2 separate regions of the Homo sapiens genome follow, and region 2 is linked to region 1. Evidence: fine-mapped expression QTL. A gene starts in region 1. The other region holds a variant in brackets. All regions are shown on one strand. Distances are between the middles of the regions.

Evidence for each region.
Region 2: its variant is fine-mapped to the expression of WDR64 in gastroesophageal junction (GTEx, PIP 0.97).

Annotation. Positions count from the first base shown.
Region 1 is chr1:241,650,466-241,653,389 of GRCh38, forward strand. WDR64 (WD repeat domain 64) reads left to right here and starts at 1,816. Exons shown (of 28, transcript NM_001367482.1): 1 at 1,816-2,164. The coding sequence starts at 2,020.
Region 2 is chr1:241,750,249-241,753,172 of GRCh38, forward strand. The region is part of intron 14 of WDR64 (WD repeat domain 64); the gene reads left to right. Among named protein-coding and RNA genes, the nearest start is that of EXO1, 96 kb to the right of the region's middle. The variant C/T (reference allele first, on the strand shown) is at 1,405.

The sequences.
Region 1 (2,924 bases):
CCATCTCAGAGTAAAAGCCAAAGTCCTAAAACAGCCAATAAGATCCTACGTGATCTGGATGCCACCCCCTGACTCTCTTGCCTTCTCTCTCTACCTCTCTCTCTCATCCCACACCACCTCAGTCACACTGGCCTCTGTCGTTTCTCAGATATGTGAAGCACACACCAATCTCAGGACTTTACGCCTGCTGTCCCTAGAACATCCTTCTACCATTTATCCACATGACTTGCTACCTCACTTCTTTCAGGTTTCTGCCCAGAAATCTTTCTATTAATGGGGAATTCCCTGATCTCCCTACCTCTTTTACTTTGATTTTTACCCCCACCCTAATACACACAAAATTCCTCTCTCTTCGTAGCACAATTGCTCACTGATACATTATTTATTTGTTTGTCTGTCTTCTGCATTAGTCTATAAACTTGAGAAGCTATTTTATTCACTGCTGTATCCTTAGTGTCTAAAACAGCCTCTAGCATGAAGTGTGTATTCAGTAAATATTTCCTAGATGAATTAATGGTGAATGCATTAGAATTGTAGGAAGAGTGGTTCTCCAGACATCACTGTACAGTGGTTTGAAAGCTTTAAAGGAAAAAGGAGGAGAAACAAATGGGGTTGGGGGATTTTTCTTTAAATAAAATCTTACTGCGCTCTCCTAACAGATAGTTAGAGGTGGACACCAAGAAGACAGTACTGGAATTGGAGGTGCTCTGAAATGCCATCTGCTTCATCTCTGAATGCAAGTTCTTGAAGAATGTTTTAAAAGATGGACTACCAAGGGGTAGGAAATTTATCTAACTCACCTAAGCCATAGGAAGTTAACTAATTGTTGAGAAACATTAAACAACTTCTCCTTCCCATAAAAAGTTGAAAATTGGAAAACCGGAGTCAATAGCATTTGGACTAAGTCGGATTGGAGATTGCAATGACTGGGAAGGAGATGTGCAGAAAGGCCTCTTCTAATTCATCTGACCTCTTACCTTGAAAAGCTGTCCTCATAATCAGAAGCCACTCCTTCCTTATCCTTGGCTCACTTTATTATTTCAATCGAAGGACAATGCACAAAGGAAGAAGAGCATTTGTATTCCCTATGACCTCTAAAAATGTTTGTGGTAGAAATGACAGGTGCTGAAATACATTTCATCTTTAGAAGTTCGAATTTCCATATCCAGTACAGTGGCAAGAATAAGTGTGAATATTACTTTTTTTTTTTTTTGAGAGGAAGTCTCACTCTGTCACCCAGGTTGGAGTGCAGTGGTGTGATCTCAACTCACTGTAACCTCTGACTCCCAGGTTCAAGTGATTCTCTTGCCTCAGCCTCCTGAGTAGCTGAGATCACAGGTGCCCGCCACCACATCCAGCTAATTTTTGTATTTTTAGTAGAGACGGGGGTTTCACCATGTTGGCCAGGCTGGTCTTGAACTCCTGACCTCAGGTGGTCCACCCACCTCGGCCTCCCAAAGTGCTGGGATTACAAGAATGAGCCGCCGTGCCTGGCCAAACTTTACTTTCCGCGGTATTGTGAGGAAGGCAAAAGGTTTGAGGTGAGAAGAGATACACGAGGGAGAAAGTATTACCCAGTTTTCTTACTTGTTATTTACTCATTCCTTTTCCCTCTCAAGCAGTATACACAACACACACATGTGCACGCGCACACACACACACAGTCTGTGGGGAAAAAAATATCTCAATCTCCTCCTTATGAAGGAAGTAGGATGTTACAGAGATATTATGATGCAATGAGGACCCTATGAAGGACACTGATGACATTGTGAGGTCAGGATTTTTACTGAAATGTTTGTCTGTATGAAATGCATCAGACCTAAATCAGCTTTCCTCCCTGCTAACATCCTAGTGGCAACTCTTACTCCTACCCGCACTATGGGATTTTAAGATCAAAGGAATTAGACCTAGGGCAAAAACTGAGACAGCAGGGAGGCACTGTAACAACTGGAAAGTTTTCCAAATTGGTAAACTTGCAGTATTCTTTCTGTACAGAAGTAAAAGATCCCCTATGTCCCTATGGATATCAGGAAGGAAAAGCGTCTCAACATGGCACTTCAGATGAGCAATTTCAAAAAGGCTTTGAACAGGTTTGAAAAATTGGTTGAACAAACAGCAGCCCAGAAAAGAGATGAAAGAGCAGGCTTATTTATCCATAAAGAAGGTAAGATCAGTGATTACACGATAGTCCAATTGGGTCTGTTGGTTAGAACTGGAAAATGTTTTAAGCCATCAGAGAGAAGCATCAGAGCTTAATGTGAAAGAATGGGTGCTGAAAGGGGATGAAGACCTCAGTTCTTGTTCTTTCTCTGTCCCTAAATAACAAAGCGGACATGAGGAAGCTTTTGTTTTGTTTTGTTTTTGTTTTTGTTTTTTTTTTTTACTTCTCTGAACCGAAGTTGCTTCAATTGTAAAACTATGGGATTGGATTAAATGACGTCCAGTGTTCTTCTGTAGACGCTGCCATTTGATGGCTCACTGGTTGACCTGGGATGCTCAGTAATGTATAGCACTGCTTTTTCTTAGCCTAAAGATATCATGAGACCATAAAGACTTTCATAAGAAGTGCAGCTTCCTGCCTCACCATGATTCCATTGTCTTGGCCACTCTCCATATCTCTAGGCAGGAATGATCTTGAGGATGCAAGCTAAGGAGAATATGGTGGACAGTGGTCTTACAGGAGGATTTGCAGCAGAGATGCCAGTGCATAGACAAGATTCAAGGGGAGTGGTGTAGTGTACAGCTTTGGCGTATTGAGGACAGCTGTGAAAAATAAAGCTACATGGCAGAGTGAAAGACTAACAGAACAAACCCTGCTGTTGCAATGAAAGGAGCAGAGCCCATATAATTGCTAAAGGGATAGTATAGCCAGCCTCTGAGTGTGCCAGGCTGCATAGTAATTTGTAAGTGAAAATCTTGACTTT
Region 2 (2,924 bases), 100 kb after region 1:
CTAATGCCCTCTTCAAATTTATAATGAAGACTAGATCATTTATCCTGGCTATTGAGCGGATCTCACCCCATCACCTCGAACTCAAGAACTCATTGCCTTTACCCTTTTGAAAGCTAAGATCAGAAAAGAAAAGTCTTGTATAGCACAGCAATCATGAAGCACCAGCTTAAGATAACTGATGACCTAAGAATGGGGAAAAAGGAGTGAAAAACCTGCCTGATGTAATATACTCTTCTCTTGTCTGAGTAATCCAAAATGGCACTGTAGAAAGGAATTTCTTAGTAATAATACACTCTACAATGAACGAAATGTTGACTTTTGCTTTACAAAGTGCCATTGTTCATCAGGATGCCCTTCCTACCAGACAATGTCTGTTGTCACAAATGCTCCTTTTTTAAGGGCTGCAAAAAGTAGCATGGAACTATTCACTCACCAAAATTGTTTTTAGTTCTACTGTAGCATTTTTCACATTGATTATTCTGGTTCTGCATTTAGAACCTGCAGATTGATCTTGGTAGGAACTGAAAACCTCTCTTATTTATATTTGTATTCTTGGCCATGCCCAGAGTAGGTGCTCATTAAGGATTAAAATAATTTTAAAAATAAATAGAGAAAGAACCTCTTCTAAAGTAGACAATAGTACATTTATGAGGGGTATTTGGAGAACTTTTATTAATGTTGGAGCGGGCAGCTTTATAATATAATGTTGAAAGTATCCTTATTTACTTATTATTATTAGTGTATTACTATTATTTACTTTATTATTATATCTGCCTATTTGAAATAAAATAATTTGATTTACATACTTATTTTCTAGAATACTTTCATTCATTCATTTTTTTCAATGACCAGTTACCAAATATTTGCCATGTTCCAGAAGGATATTCCCTTTCACCATGAAATGCATAATTTAATAAGGGGGCAGTGATCCACCTACTACAAGTGTTGTGAGTGCTTTCACAAAGTGTCTCAGAAGCTTGTATGGTGGGATGGTTGTCAGACTAATCTGGTAGCCAGGCCATTTTTTTTCCAACTAAAAAGGGAACAAGCTTTATAATAAATTTCTTTCCCTAAATTCCAAACCCCATTTCTCTGTTTGCCCAGAAACTGGAAGGTGGGCAGGTGGAAGTTGGAGCTGAGAGTGGAATGGAGGAAAGATAAACCCAACCTCTATCTCTCTATCTTCCTAGATTCCCAGCTGCCTTAAAAACAAAAACAAAAACAAAAAAACAAACACCCCCATCCCGGCTCCACAAAACCAAAAAGCCAAAACCTGCTTCAGTGATCACATTCAGTTATTCAGGAAACATCGCTGATGCATTATGAGCTGAGAAGGGTCTCCAAAGTATCATGTACTTTTAAATGTGTTCAGACAGTCCTTAACGGCTTAAATATAATATCTCT[C/T]TTATGCTTCTGTTCTTGGTTTTATTTTCTCAAGTCTCAGAAAAACCCTTGTGCAACTGCCCGCTCTGGGCACAAATCATCACTGTGCTGAATATTCTGGGCATGATTTCCTAGCCACGTAACAAGAGGGCAGACCGTAAATTGACTGGTCTATTAATACAACTTCATAGAAAACAAGAGAAGAAAACAACAATTCTTCTCATAATCTCAGTTTTAAGGGGATAGAATTGCATTCTGCCTATATGAAACCTTTGGCAAATTTGAGAAAAATTTGCCCCCAAGCCATTGTTGACAAAACCATAGGTTGGTGAGAGATTACTGTTCTAACATGATAAACAAAGCACTATGGGGGTTCCAGGAAGATGATTAATTGACCCCAAAATCATTCAAATTCTAAAGACCCACTTACTTCCCTTCCTTTTAACCACAGTGCTTTATGAATCTACTCATATAGCTGTATTTCTGTGTCCTTTAAAGTAAATGATCTTTCTTTATGAAGCAATTAACATAATAATGCTCTTAGCATTATATGAACTGCTGTTTTCCTAATCAATTCCTAAAGACCTACCAGCCAATTCCAATATAACATAAAAGATTTCACCAATTAGAGATGAAATGTAGAAAATAAGGGTAACTTTTCACAAAGCTACTTTTACTTCATTTAAATTTTAAGATTATATCTTTCCTACTGTTTTATATTACTATAGCCTTTCTTTTCATAAAATAATGGTAGTAGAGTTTCCCATCTCCTTCTCCCTCATGTCCTCACTTGGTAAAATTGAATGTTGGTAACTCTAGGTCAATCTTCAAAAGGTGTTTTGTAAATTCTGCTGCTCTGTGAATTCAGAAAGTCTGAGAGCCACTGTCATAGGAGGTTCCATTGAAACCGGTTAAACCTATTAAAAACCACTGTTGGGCTGGATATAGTGGCTCATGCCTGTGATCTCAGCACTTTGGGAGGCCAAGGCAGGAGGATAGCTTGAGGTTAGGAGTTTGAGACCAGCCTGGGCAACATAGTGAGACACCATCTCTACCAAAAAATGTAAAAATTAGCCAGGCATGGTGTCACACACCTGTAGTCTCAGCTACTTGGGGAGCTGAGGTGGGAGAATTGCTTGATCCTGGGAAGTCAAGGCTGCAGTGAGCCAAAATTGCACCACTGCACTCCAGCCTGGGCGACAGAGCAAGACTCTGTCTCAAAAAGACACACACACAAAAAACAAACCACTGTCAATAACTCATACCACCAGGTGGGCACATAAATCTAACTAAGCTATTACTCAGTGTCAATATCTGGTCACTCTTGAGATATTGCTGAGATTCATTCCTTCTATCCCACAATGGCACAAACTGTAAACAAAGAATCCACCAGTACGTAGGAGTACTATGGGCCCATACTTTTAAATTAACATGGATATGAAGTAACAGAGGCCTTAGGGCAACACCTAAAATCAAAGCTTTAAAAAATGGAAGGACTTTTATCCATCAACTAGCTAAAGCCCTCATTTTGCAAATAAGAA